4 linked regions of the Homo sapiens genome follow. The protein of the gene in region 2 interacts with the protein of the main gene of each other region in a pairwise test. Each region holds a gene or a part of one and is shown on either strand. Other genes may lie near its edges. The genes, in order: KIF1A, PKNOX1, SYNM and TTC3.

Evidence for each region.
Region 1: the proteins of PKNOX1 (region 2) and KIF1A interact in a two-hybrid assay, tested with the Homo sapiens proteins (one large-scale study listed by BioGRID and IntAct).
Region 3: the proteins of PKNOX1 (region 2) and SYNM interact in a two-hybrid assay, tested with the Homo sapiens proteins (one large-scale study listed by BioGRID and IntAct).
Region 4: the proteins of PKNOX1 (region 2) and TTC3 interact in a two-hybrid assay, tested with the Homo sapiens proteins (one large-scale study listed by BioGRID and IntAct).

Annotation. Positions count from the first base shown.
Region 1 is NC_000002.12:240,713,197-240,716,243, reverse strand, and holds the end of KIF1A (kinesin-like protein KIF1A), read left to right. Parts: 3' UTR 1-2,477; downstream 2,478-3,047.
Region 2 is NC_000021.9:42,981,019-42,984,588, forward strand, and holds part of PKNOX1 (homeobox protein PKNOX1), read left to right. Parts: intron 1-3,570. UniProt on the Homo sapiens protein: Activates transcription in the presence of PBX1A and HOXA1.
Region 3 is NC_000015.10:99,111,528-99,115,097, forward strand, and holds part of SYNM (synemin), read left to right. Parts: intron 1-2,063; coding exon 2,064-2,188; intron 2,189-3,570. UniProt on the Homo sapiens protein: Type-VI intermediate filament (IF) which plays an important cytoskeletal role within the muscle cell cytoskeleton.
Region 4 is NC_000021.9:37,076,248-37,079,817, forward strand, and holds part of TTC3 (E3 ubiquitin-protein ligase TTC3), read left to right. Parts: intron 1-3,570. UniProt on the Homo sapiens protein: E3 ubiquitin-protein ligase which catalyzes the formation of 'Lys-48'-polyubiquitin chains. Mediates the ubiquitination and subsequent degradation of phosphorylated Akt (AKT1, AKT2 and AKT3) in the nucleus.

The sequences.
Region 1 (3,047 bases), on a different chromosome or scaffold from region 2:
CCAGGGCAGAGAGTTTCTGTGAGTCCCACTGAGAAAATCCCATGGGGTGGGGGTATCCTGGTCGGTCGGCAATGGAGGGTGGCTGGCTTGGTGGTTATTGTCTTCAAGGAGCTCTTCGCTGCTGCATCTGCGGTGTCCCTTTGTTCTTGTCCCATTTCACCCCCTCTGCAGACACCAATGTCCGAGGGCCACCCAGGACAGGACGGGGGTCAGCCCCAAGCTGAGAGTCTGGTCATAGGAGTCATGTCCAGAGGCCTAGGGAGGTTTTAGGGCCCTCCCCACCCACACCCACAGGTCGATTTGGTCTCTTTTTAGCTCAAGGAAAGACAGTAGCCAAGCAACAGAGCCCCTCTCCCGCCGTGGCCCGTGGGAGCAGTTACATCGGGTCTGGTGCTCCAGACCTAGGGCCCAGCACTTTCATCAGATCCTGCCTCCTGGAGTGGGGGAAACGCAGCACCCCACTGGTTCTGAGGCCCCTACCCTCCCAGGCTGTCCCACGTGATGCTGACATGAGCCTCAGAGACCCCAATCCCATGCCTGGGGGAGAGACAGCGGCTCAGGAGTGGGGGAGCACGGGCCTTCTACACCACATGGGAAGGCTCTGGCATGAGGTTTTCCTTTGGGAAGGTTGTTTGGGCCCCTGAAGTTCCATCTCCGAGAGTGGTGTGCAGGGCAGGCCAGGGCCCATGCTGGCTGCAGTCTCTGTGGCTGCCTGCCTGGGCCAGCCTGTTTGGGAGCTGGGACTGTGGGCTCGCCTTTTCGTACCTGGGCTCAGGTGCGGTGTGGCCACCGCCACCCTCATCCCCTGCCTGGGAGGCTCTCCCAGGGGCTGATGGGGGGGTTCTGTGAGGGAGAATCAGGGCTCGGGAAGCCACGCCTGGGAAGGCAGGACACAGGACACAGCAGCTTTCTTTGGAAATCTCCCAGGTGAGGATTCACATCCCAAAATAAAATTCAGAAGCCAGGTGGCCTGTGCTCCCCATGGGTGACCTCTGGAGGCAGTGGACCAAGATGCAGCAAGGAGAGGATGCAGAACAGCTTCTTGCAGAAGCACCTGCTCCGGCATCCAGCGCTGCCTGGAGGCAGGAAGGAGAGGCAGGGCAGGACACGCTGGTCTGAGATGAGGGGGAGCCCCACGGGCCCCAGGCAGGCTAGAGGAGGCACAGGCCCTGCCACGGCCAACTCAGGTCAGCCAGCCTGAGGCTGTGGCCTCCAAAGGGTCTGGGCGCACCCCCCAGGTCGCAGGTGTCTGAGGCCAGCCAACCTGCAGAGCACTCGCGGCGTGGGTGGGCTGAGTGGAGGTGCCTGGGAGCTGCCTAAATTCAGAAGCCTCCACTGCCATGGAGACTGCCTGGCTGTGTCCTCTCAGCCAGGTGCCGTGTTGGCCTTGGCTAGGACCCAGAGCCACACTGCAGCCTCCGCCGACTCCCTCCTTCCGGGCCTGCTCTAGTGAGGAGTGCCTAAGCCAGGACCCAGAAACTCAGAGTTGATGGTGAGAGGAGGCCGCCTGAGTCAGGACACCTGGCTTCTTGAAAAGTTCGCTCTGCCAGAAACCACCTAGGGACCACGTTAGCTGCCTTCCTTGAGCTCCCCAGGAGTCGGTTTCCACATCTGTGAGGTGGAGGGCTGGTGTGGAGGTGCTCATGGGGTGCGGTGCTTGGGAGACAGCCAGGCCCAGGGTGGCTGCTGCTTCCTGCTAAGTGGGGGAGGTGAGACAGATCTGGAAAGCCGTCTCCCTCAGATGGTTTCATTTAATGCTTTATACTGCCGAGTCTGGGGGCTTGTTTTGGTTTGGGGGCAGCCATCCTCCACCAGAAAGGGGGAGCTCCTTCCGCTGCGGCTCCAGATAGATGGGGATGCCGGGCTCCAGGCCGACCAGCACTTGGGATCTGATGGGACACGGCCAGTGCCTAGGGGTGCCAAGTCCAAGGCCTCCCACTGGGAGTCATCGCTGAGAAGATGCCAATGTTTCATCCACCGGCTGCACAGGCACAAACTCCCCCACCCAGGACGGCTGTGATGAGGTGGCCCTCCCTGTCAACCCTGGTCCCTGGAGTCCCCAGCACCTGGGGCCCTGGTGGGGCTGATGTCACAGGTGTTTACTGTGCTGCTGCACTGGTCCTATGCCAGCCTCACCCATGTGGGGACCACGGAAGGCACACTCCCTTACCCCCGGTGCCGGGCCGTGCGGTCCCCCAGACGGACAGCAGCTGTGGCGACCTGCGTTTCTCCCTGGGCCTGTGCTTCCTGTAGTTAGTCCGTCCCCTGGTTCCCCTGTGGCTCAGAGGCCGCGTCCCTGGCTTGTACATATGTGATTGCTGTGGGCACACCCCAGACCCCATGTCATAGCTGCCGTCCCGACGTCACGACGCCTGTCCCGATGTCTTACACCCGAGTGTTAGCCCTAGGCTCCTGTACTGTGCGTGCACTTGAGGCTCTGTCCAATTAAGAAATAAATGTGGCTCTTACTCAACACAGTCCCATGGGCTCTGCTGTGGCTTTATTTGCGTGTTACGTGTGTTGCAGGGCCCCGGAAAATGGCTGTAGGTGCATGCATCCAGCGTGGTCCAGAGACAGTACCCCTCTCCCAGTGATGAGGCAGGGAGGGGCTGGCTCTCGAGGTGGGCATGGGGAGGTGGTGGGGAAGGTGTCGAAGACTGAGTGTACACAGGGTGCTGGTCTTGGAGGATCAACCTCCACCTGCCTCCCGTGACCGGTTGCACCCCTGTGAACCAGCCCCAGGCACCTCCCCAGGGACACAGCACCTACCACCCTCATACCAGGCCACTGCACCCATCCCAGGCAGCCTCAGGCCTGGACCCTTCAGAGTCTCTAGTCCATGGGGTCTGCGCCTGGGCCCAGATCCTCAGAGCCTCCTGGAGTTCCAGAGGCCGCACCATTGCACACGAGGGCCTTAGTCTTGTCCAAGGTATGGCAGGAGTTTGTGGACCAGCGTCACACTGATGGCCGATGGGAGGATGGGGTGACAGCCTTGCACTTTGGGGGACTCTGGGCAGGGCCCCCAGTCCTTAGGAGCCCCCAGGCCC
Region 2 (3,570 bases):
CAGATAGGGGAACCCAAAGCCTAACAGTGTGTGTCCTTGGAGGTGAGGGTGAAGGAAGTGGCTGCAGGCCCTGGGAAGTACCATCTTGCATCCGTGTGCAGCACTGAGTGGATACCTCATGGTTCTGTCTTGTGTACACTGTTCAGGAGGACATGTAGAGTGGACATATCACATAGAAGAAGGTCAGTCTGGAAACTGTTAGGAGAAGCACTCAAGGGCTGAGAGGCATGGTCCTTGGTGGAAAGAGCCAGCAGGCCTGGTGCTGGCGGTGCCCTGCTCGTGACAGTGTGCAAAGTCTGGAGCCTGGCCTGTTCCCGCCCTTGGCAGATGGTAGCTCCTTGTTTTGGATTATTAGCCCCTGCCGGTTTAGTTACTGTTTCTGGAAGATTCACATAGAAGGCAGTGTGGTAATTCAGTCAACGTGTTGTCTGGCATGTGGTATAAAACTCCTGTTTAAAGCTCTGATTCTGAGGCCATGCCTCAGGGACTTGAGAAGGGGACAGAGCAGCTTATTTTATTTTATTATTTATTTTATTTAATTTTAATTTTATTTTATTTTGAGATAGGGTCTCACTTTTTCACCCAGGCTGGAGTGCAGTGGCACGATCTCGGCCCACTGCAGCCGGGAGCTTCTGGGCTCAAGTAATCTTCCCGCCACAGCCCCCAAAGTAGCTGGGATTACAGGCACGTGTCATCACACCCAGCTAATTGTACTGTTTGCCGTCTGCGATTGACGCTGGAATGATTGGCTGTTTTAGTCGGGTTCTCAGGGTGGCAGGGAGCAGGCTGACTTCAAGTTGGGTGGGTGGTGAGATAGGTGGTTCAGGATCATGCAGGGATAAAGAAAACAGGAGTCTATGGGATTCTTGGGACCACTGTATTGTTGCTGGGCCTCTGGGCAGATGGAACCATGGTTTGTGCTCTGGCAGGATCCAGTTCTGCACCAGGGCTCTTGGCCTTCCGCTTCAATTAGGTGGTTGCCCTCCACTGTCTGTTCCATCTGTACGCTCCCCTCACAGTGGGGGCTCACCCAGCCTTACCTGCCCTGTACTCTCCCTTTTCCAGCACCCACCTCAGAGAGAGTGCCTGTGCTCTTTCCCCTCACACCACCTACCAGGCGCTGACCTTCGGGCTGGGGGCTGGCCTTGGGTGTTGCAGGGCTACCTGGCCCAGGGAGTGGTGCTTGGGGAGGAATGAGCTTCTGACACCTGCACAAGGAAGGCCCCCTTTGAGCAGGGCCTGCCAGTGGGGTTGGGTCACTCAAAGGGGCTGTGGATTGGTAGGTACTATGATCACAGTTTCCAGAACATAATGCCTGAGTGAGCGCATGTGTTTTGTTACATGTTCTCTCAGACATTTTATGAAGGTTTGTACATTTTTTTGCATTAAAAATGTTAGGAATTTAACTTGACAAGAAAAAGGAGCATAAGGCCGGGTGCAGTGGTTCACGCCTGTAATCCCAGCACTTTGGGAGGCCAAGGTGGGTGGATCACCTGAGGTCGGGAATTCGAGTCCAGCCTGAACAACATGGAGAAACCCTGTCTCTACTAAAAATACAAAAAATTAGCCGGGTGTGGTGGTGCATGCCTGTAATCCCAGCTACTTGGGAGGCTGAGGCAGGAGAATCACTTGAACCCAGGAGGTGGAGGTTATGGTGAGCTGAGATCGCGCCATTGCACTCCAGCCTGGGCAACAAGAGCGAAACTCCATCTCAAAAAAAAAAAAAAAAGTTTAATAAACATTAAATTGCTAAACTTTACGTTCTTCTAAATTTAGTTACGTATTTGAGCATACTTTTTTTTCCCCCACGAAACAGGGGCTTGCTCTGTTGCCCAGGCTGGAGTGCAGTGGTGCAATCTTGGCTCCCTGCAACCTCTGCCTCCCGGGTTCAGGCAATTCTCCTGCCTCAGCCTACTGAGTAGCTGGGATTACAGGTGCCCACCACCACGCCTGGCTAATTTTTGTATTTTTAGTAGAGATGGAGTTTTACCATGTTGGCCAGGCTGGTCTCGAACTCCTGACCTCAGATGAGCTGCCCACTGTTGCCTTTCAAAGTTCCAGGATTACAGGCATGAACCACTGTGGCTGGCCTTTTTTTTCCAATTTTTTGTTATGGTAAAATACACGTAACAAAATTTACCATCTTAACCATTTTCAGTGTGCAGTTCAGTGGTGGTAAGTTCATTCATACTTTTGTACAGCCATCACCACCATCTGTCTCCAGAACCCTTCATCTTGTAAAACTGAAACTCTATACCCATTAAACACTGCCTCCCCATCTCCCCTCCCTGAAGCCCCTGGCAACCACCATTCTACTTCCTGTCTCTGAATTTCGCTACTATAGGGACTTCATACCAGTGGAATTAGGTAGTATTTGTCTTTTTGTGACCAGCTTAGCTCATTTACCATAATGTCCTTAAGGTTCATCTATGTTGTAGTGTGTGTCAGAATTTCCTTCCTTTTTAAGGCTGAATACTCCATTGTGTGGATATACTGAATTTTGTTTATCCATCCCTCAACAGACACTTGAGTTCCTTCTACCTTTTGACTATTTTGAATAATAAAACTGTGAACCTGAGTGTGTAAATACTTCTCCGAGATCCTACTTTCAATTTTTTTGGATATAGATCTAGAAGTGGGATTGCTGGATCATACTGGAATTCTGTTTTTAATTTTTTAGGGAACCTCCATCCGATTTTTCGCAGCAACTGTACTGTTTTATATTCCTTTTAATTTAATTTATTTTTTATTTTTCCAAGGACTCAATAAGGAGAGAGTATCAGTTTACATTCCTACCAACAGTACAGAGGTTCCAGTTTCTCCGTATCTTACCCAACACTTATTTTCTTATGTGTTGTTGCTTTTTTTAATAGCAGCCATCCTAATGGATTTGAGGTGGCATCTTACTGTCATTTTGATTTGTATTTCCCTAATAATTAGTGATGTGGAGCATCTTTTCACATGTTCATCGGCCATTTACATGTCTTTGGAGAAATATCTCTTCAAGTCCTTTGCCCCTTTTTGAATTGGGTTTCTTACATGCATACGTGTGTGCGTGTGTGTGCGTGTGTGTGTGTGTGTGTGTGTGTGTTTTAAAGAGACAGGGTCTCATGATGTTGTCCAGGCTGGTCTCCAACTCCTGGGCTCAAGTAATCCAGTAATACTCCTGCCTCAGCCTCCCAAGGAGCTGGGACTTAAAGACATGGGCCCCTGTGCCTGGCTATGTTCATACGTTTTTACATATTTTTTAAGCTATATTGTGTTATGCTTTTAGTTGGCATTTTAGTGATTTTTAAAACATTTATATAATCCACACATTTCTCGTTTTAAAAATTTAAGGTCTCATACACTTTTGTGAGTCCAGTTTTTTTCTTTTTCTTTTTTTTTGAGACAGAGTTTTGCTCTTGTTGCTCAGGCTGGAGTGCGATGGCATGATCTTGGCTCACCACAACCTCCACCTCCTGGGTTCAAGCAATTCTCCTGCCTCAGCCTCCCAAGTAGCTGGGATTACAGGCATGTGCCACCCCGCCTGGCTAATTTTGTATTTTCAGTAGAGACAGGGTCTCTCCA
Region 3 (3,570 bases), on a different chromosome or scaffold from region 2:
AGCTTCTCTGTTTGTAATGCCAGCTGTGGGATCTGTTATCGTTTTTCCACCCTGGGACATAAGCCAGTGATTTTTAAGTTTACTTCTTTGCTTTAAAAGCTAAGGGGTTTTAAACTACTTCAGGACCCTTTATATTCAGGGAACCTAACAGCCATCATTGGCATAGAAATAGAACTGTTATGAGAAGTGGGAATATTTATTGGCTGATCATGCATTTTAAAAAATGATAAATTCTGGCTGGGTGCAGTGGCTTGTGCCTATAATCCCAGCACTTTGCAAGGCTGAGGCGGGAGGATCACCTGAGGTCAGGAGTTCAAGACCATCCTGGCCAACGTGGTGAAACCCCGTCTCTACTAACAATACAAAAATCAGTTGGGCGTGATGGCAGGCGCCTGTATACAGTCCCAGCTACTTGGGAGGCTGAAGCTGGAGAATCACTTGAACCTGGGAGGTGGAGGCTGCAGTGAGCCGAGATTGTGCCATTGCACTCCAGCCTCGGTGACAGAGCGAGACTGTCTCCAAAAACAAACAAAACAACCAAAAAGATAAATTCCATGTGCAATCTTGTAGAGTTCATTCCTTGGTTTCACAGACATATTTATTATGGACCCTCAGCATCTTGCCGGGTGCCTTTGGTGAAGGGATTCCAGCAGCAATGAACATAATATTCCCTCTCCCAGTAGTCTTACCGTTTTTGAATTCTACAAAGATAAATGTTTATAGGTCTAGCTTAGTTTAGTTAATGATGTTCAGAAATAATGCTACTTCCCATTACAAACCAGAAGTTAAAAGTACATGGACTTATTTCAATGTTTAAATACTTGCTTGGTTAATTGTTCCCCAGAGTAACTAACAACTAGGAATAAAACAAAACTGGAAATCGGTGCAGCTGAAGCCCATATGTTTGTTTGAGAAGATACTGTCGACTTCAAATAGTACATTTTGAGGAGGGTGATATGATCTTGATCATTTCATTTTAAATTTAATTGAGCAGCTATGTGCTGTGTGACTTGTATGTGGTGGGCACTGGTCTAGGTCTGGGATTCAGAAGGCCGCAGTATCTCCCTGCCAGGTAGAGAGGCAGGTCGGGGACCCGGCCAGGGGTGAGGGGAGCTGCGAGGAGCACCCAGGACGCCCTTACTAGCTGCACTGTGCAATTACGGTTCATAAAGCAGTTTTATTTATTTTTATTTTATTTTTTGAGGTGGAGTCTCGCTCTGTCGCTCAGGCTGGAGTGCAGTGGCATGATCTTGGCTCACTGCAACCTCCGCCTACTGAGTTCAAGTGATTCCTGTTCCTCAGCCTCCTGAGTAGCTGGGATTACAGGTCTGCGCCACCATGCCCAGCTATTTTTTGTATTTTCAGTAGAGACAGGGTTTTGCCATATTGGCCAGGCTGGTCTCGAACTCCCGACCTCAAGTGATCCGCCCGCTTCGGCCTCCCAAAGTGTTGGGATTATAGGTGTGAGCCACCACGCTAGGCCCAAAAAGAAGTTTTATATCTGAGTCTGTAGTTTGTCATTTATGCCCAGAATGCATTTCTCCCCAGATGATCTTAAAGTAGCTTTTCTAAGTGAAACAAAACTCTGTATCAGTTTACCTGCTTATTGTTGGAGAAATCATGACTTTGGGGAGTACATTTCAGTTCAATTCTGAGTGACTTATGTTTTGAATATTGTAAAACCCCTGATTTCTAGTCTTGGCTTATTTTCCATAGCGTCTTAGTGACTGGTTTGAAGCACTGGCTCTCCTAAGCAGCCTGATGTCTAAACGGTAGAGATGATTTGAATAAACTCCTAAGCATTCATTATTAATAGAGAGTCTGAACAGAGAAGCCAGTGTCCTATCAAAATGTTCCACATGCAATAAAAAACTTCCATATGGAAGAGATACAACATTGGAAACCATCCTGCAAGTGACTGCATGTTTAATAACGCCGGGTGTTTTTCTGGTCTGCTAATAACCCTGGTCTGTTTTTCAATTCGATCCTGAATTGTTGGTACCTTCAGTTCGACCCAGTAAAGCTCCAGTTCTCTGATATAAAAGTCTGTCTATTCTCTTTAGAGAGTGATTGACTGCCTGGAGGATGAGAAGGCAACCCTCACCTTGGCCATGGCTGACTGGCTGCGGGACTATCAGGACCTCCTGCAGGTGAAGACCGGCCTCAGTCTGGAGGTGGCGACCTACCGGTAAGGAGACTGTGCTGAGTTGGCCTTGACGAAGCCATGGGGGTGTAACTTGCACATGAAGGAAACTGGTCTAGGGACCGTAGCCTTTGTGGAGTCACTGTGGCTTTGTGACAAGCAGAGAGCAGCCCTTGGCATGGCCAGGCAAGGAGTCCGAGGCCAAAAGGAAGAGGAAGAGTAGGGCTTGCTTAGGTCACTGAGCAGGTGTCTCCAGCAAGGGAGTAGCTGAGCCGTGCCCCCTTACCTAGTGTTTGTATGTTCTGGGGACTGCTGAAGAGCTTCACACATGTCAACGTGTTGGATCCTAGGAACTGGAGACTGTGTTTACAGATGAACAGACTTTGCTCAGAGAAGTTACAGAACTGGAAAGTGGAGGGCCAGGATGTGTTAGTGTGTTTTCACACCGCTATAAAGATCCTACCTGAGCCTGGGTAATTTACAAAGGAAAGAGGTTTAATTGACTCACAGTTATTCCGCAGGGCTGGGGAGGCCTCAGGAAACTTACAATCGTGGCGGAAGGCAAAGGAGAAGCAAGAACCTTCTTCAGAAGGTGGCAGGAGAGAGAGAGAGCTCAGGGGAAACTGCCACTTTTAAAGCATCAGATCTCATGAGAACTCACTCCCTATCATGAGAACAGCGTGGGGAAAATTGCTCCCATGATCCAGTCACCTCCCACCAGGTCCCTCCCTCAACACGTGGGGGTTACAAATCGAGATGAGGTTTGGGTGGGGACCCAGAGCCAAACCGTGTCACAGGATTTGGACCCAGGAAGTCTGTGTCTATCTGCTTGATTGTTGCTTTGAATCTCAGGGCTCTGATGCCACCCTGTGTGGGTTTGGCCCTGAACTGAATCTCTTCCAAGAGATTAGCATGGTGCATGCTAATGTAGGCCAACTGGCTTTATGTATCAAGATGTTGACTTGAGTTCAAGGTAACCAACTCTGATGAAAAGGTCACAAAGCGCTCAAAGGGGCTGGGTGCTGGGTGGGGCAGAGAATGCAGTCCAGTCCCCCTGGGTGTGGCCTGCAGGCCGGCGGAACAGTGCTCCTCCCCTCCTTGGCATCACCCTCCTTTCCCCTGGGTGCCAGTGCGTCTTTGATTGAGGTGGTGCCCCTTGTTTCCTGGCAGCTCTCATGCTCAGGGCAGCTATGAAGGAGCCAGGGTCTGTGACGCTTACAGTGGAAGGAATTTTAGAGACCCAGTTGCCCAACTTCAGGAACACTAACAATAGCCAGCTTTATGGCGTCCTTACTGCCTGCCAGACGTGGTGCTGAGTTCTTTGCCACTATTCTCTGCTCCGAGTCAACTCTGAGGTGGGCACCACTCTCCCCTCTTAGAGGTGAGAGAGAGAGGCCGGGAGGTTGGGGCTGCAGGCTGGTGAGGGG
Region 4 (3,570 bases), 5.9 Mb from region 2:
AATATTGGGTATAGATGTAAGTCATTAATTTTCACTGCTGTGTAATATTCCAAGTGTGAATATAACACAGTGTATGCATTCTTCTGTTAATGGGCATTTTGGTTGTTTCTAGGTTTTGCTGTTATGAAGTTATATACTTTTTGGTTCACAGTTGTAAGAATTTTTCTAATTTTCACACTGGGGTATATGAGCCCCAGAGGAGTAATGAAGATTTGCTAAGGAATGTGTGGGTACAAATGATGTTAATGAATCAGTTTCTAGATCATTACATTCCATAGGTACTCTTTCCTAAAAATGGTAATGCCTGAGGCCTCCTGCTAGTGCTACTTTCTTACCTTGTGTTTCTAACATTGCACTTTACATAAGACAGGCAAACCACAGGTTCTTGTGGAATCTTACTATGGCATTGCCCAAAGGGGGAAAACTCCCTTGGGGAAAACAAAGGGATTTTTTTTTTTTTTTTTTTTTTTTTTGAGTGAAGTTTTGCTCTTTTTGCCCAGGCTGGAGTGCAATGGCACGATCTCGGCTCACTGCAACCTCTGCCTCCCAAGTTCAAGTGATTCTCTTGCCTCAGCCTCTGAGTAGCTGGGATTACAGGCGCGCACCACCACACCCGGCTAATTTTGTATTTTTAGTAGAGACGGGATTTCACCATGTTGGCTAGGCACGTCTTGAACTCCTGACCTCAGGTGATCTGCCCGACTCGGCCTCCCAAAGTGCTGGGATTACAGGCCACCGCGCCTGGCCTACAAAGGGATAATTTAAAATACCACTATAGTGTTAGGGAAAGCCTCTTTTAATCCTGGCACTTCCCCATCCATTTCCTTAAGAGAGATATTTCCAATAAAGTTGCTTTTTTTTTTATGTTATCAGGGTATATTTTTTGGCCAACCATATGCTGGTAATAATTATACATTTAAAAGAATGAGATAATCAGTTTTACTTTAAAATGTTACTGTGATGTTCTAGAAATTCACCCTTTGCAATTATTTAATCTTATGGTGATATTTTTTAAATGTCATCTTAATGGGTAAAGGGTATGCAATTTTAAAAAGCACTTTTGGTGGTTTGCGAGCAAAAAAAAAAGGTTGAAATACCACCATGTTAATTTGTTCAGCAGCAAAAGAAAAAGAAAAGAGAAAGAAATACTGCCGTATCACTATAGTAAGCTGTTTGCTAGAAATGGGATTGCTAGATCAAGGGGTATGAATGATCAGCTTTACAAAATAATGTCAGATTACTTTCTGAAGGGGTTGTATCAGTTTGTACTTTGGCCAGCAGTTTTGTCTGTTTATATACTTTGATCAACAGTGTGTAAGAGTTACAGTTGATCTACAACCTCTCCAACACTTGTTATTGTCAGACTTAATATTTGCCAATGGAATGGGTATGAAATGATGCATCATTGTGGTTTTAATTTGCATTTTTTGTTATTAATGAGATTGAGCATCTTTTGTATGTTTATGAACTGTCTTTGTTTCCTTTTTATGAAATATCTAGTCATATATTTTACCCTTTGTTCTGATGAGTTGTCTTTTAAAACTGGTAACATCGATTATGTGCGTTGTAAATATCTTTTTCTGGTTTGTGGCCTGTCTTTCTACTGTTTATGGTGTATTTTGGTGAACAGAAGTTCTTAATTTTAACATAATCTGATTGGAACCTTTCTTGCCCTGGGCTTATAAAGACATTCCTCTGTTTCTTTTTAGAGGTTTTAAAATGATGTCTTCCACATTTAAGTTCATAATTTATCTGGAATTGATTTTTGTGTATGTTCTGAGATAGTGATCCACATTGATTTTTTTTTTCTCCTGTGTGGTTCTAATTATCCCTGTACCATGTATTGAATTGGCCCTCTGTTCACCAGTGGTCTGCTGTGCCATCTCTTTTACATGTTTAGTTACTACCTGCATGGGTCTGTTTTTGGCTTGCCTTTCTGTGTCACTTGTCACCTTGTCTGTCTCTGTGTTCATACCACACTGTCTTAATCATTAATACTATAGTTTTACCTGAAATCTCGGTATCTGGGGAGGACTTGAATCTCACCTATTTTTGGTCATTTGTTCTTAAGAATTAGCTTGTTACATGACATGAAAAACCCTGTAGGTATTAATTAGAATTAATTGAATCAGTTTGGGGGAGAATCGAAATCTTTAAGATTTTGATCCTTTTTATTTTTAAGAATATGGTATGTATCTCTATTTATGTAAAGTTTTAGTGTAGTTTTGTAATATTCTCCATAGAGGTCTTCCACTTTTTCATATGTTAATTCTGATGTTATTGTTTTTGTTGCTATTATAAATGGTGGTGTTCTTAAAGATTCTATCTTAACTTATTTATTGTTAGTAAATATTTTAACTTATTGTTAAATAGAAATTTAATGAATTTTTAAAAATATTGACCCTTTAGTCATCCACTTGATAAACTTACTACTTCTAATATTTTTTCTGAAATTCCTTTGTGTTTTCTGTGTGGATAATTATATCATTTGCAAATAGTGACAGTTTTAGTTCTTCTAGTTATTTTTGCTTTTAATTTATTCATTTTTTTGGTCTTAAATGTGCTGGCATACTTTATACTTACGTTCAATGGAAGTGATTAGGGTTGTTCATTAGAAGCGATTATAGTGGGCATAGAGTTCTTGTTCTCAATTTTAAAGAGAATATTTCTCAGCTGAGAATAACATTTGCTGTGAATTTTTGTAGATACCTTTGATTAAGTTAGGGAAGTCTTTTCAGTTGTCACATGCTTTTCTGCATTTGTTGAGAATATCTTGTGTCTTTTCTTCTTTAATCTGTTAAATGTAATGAATTCCGTTTTATAGATTTAAAACTGTTCATTTTCTTTTATATTCTTTCTTGAGATAAACCCAAATTGGTCTTTATAGATTATATTTTTATGAACTACTAGATTGAGTTTGCTCATATTTTATTTAGATTTTTGTGTCTGTTTATGGCTAGAATCACTTCTCATTTTTCTTTATTGGCTGTCTTATCTGACTTGGGTATTAAAGTTACACTGACTTTATACCATGAGTTAGAGAATAGTTCCTCTTTTTCTGTTCCCTGGGAGAGTTTGGATTGGAGTGATTTGTTTCTTAAAAGCTTGGTGGAACTTAACTATAAGGTCATTTGGATCTAATGTTTTCTTCTTGGAGGTTTAGTAGTAATTAGCAGTTGAACAGTCATAGGACTGTTCAGGTATTCTATTTCTTTTAGTCAGTTTTGGTAAGTTTTAGAAATTTGTCCTTTCATCAAGTTTATGGTATGGTTTTTTTTTTTTTTTTTTTTTTTTTTTTTTTTTTAAGATAGAGTCTCCCTCTGTTGCCCAGGCTGGAGTAGTGCAGTGGTGCCATCTCATTGCAACCTCTGCCTCCTGAGTTCAAGCGATTCTCCTGCCTCAGCCTCCTGAGTAGCTGGGATTACAGCCGTGCGCCACCATGCTTGGCTGATTTTTTTGTATTTTTAGTAGAGACGGAGTTTCACCATGTTGGCCAGGCTCTTCACAAACTCCTGACCTCAAGTGGTCTGCCCACCTCGGCCTCCCAAAGTGCTAGGATTACAGGTGTGA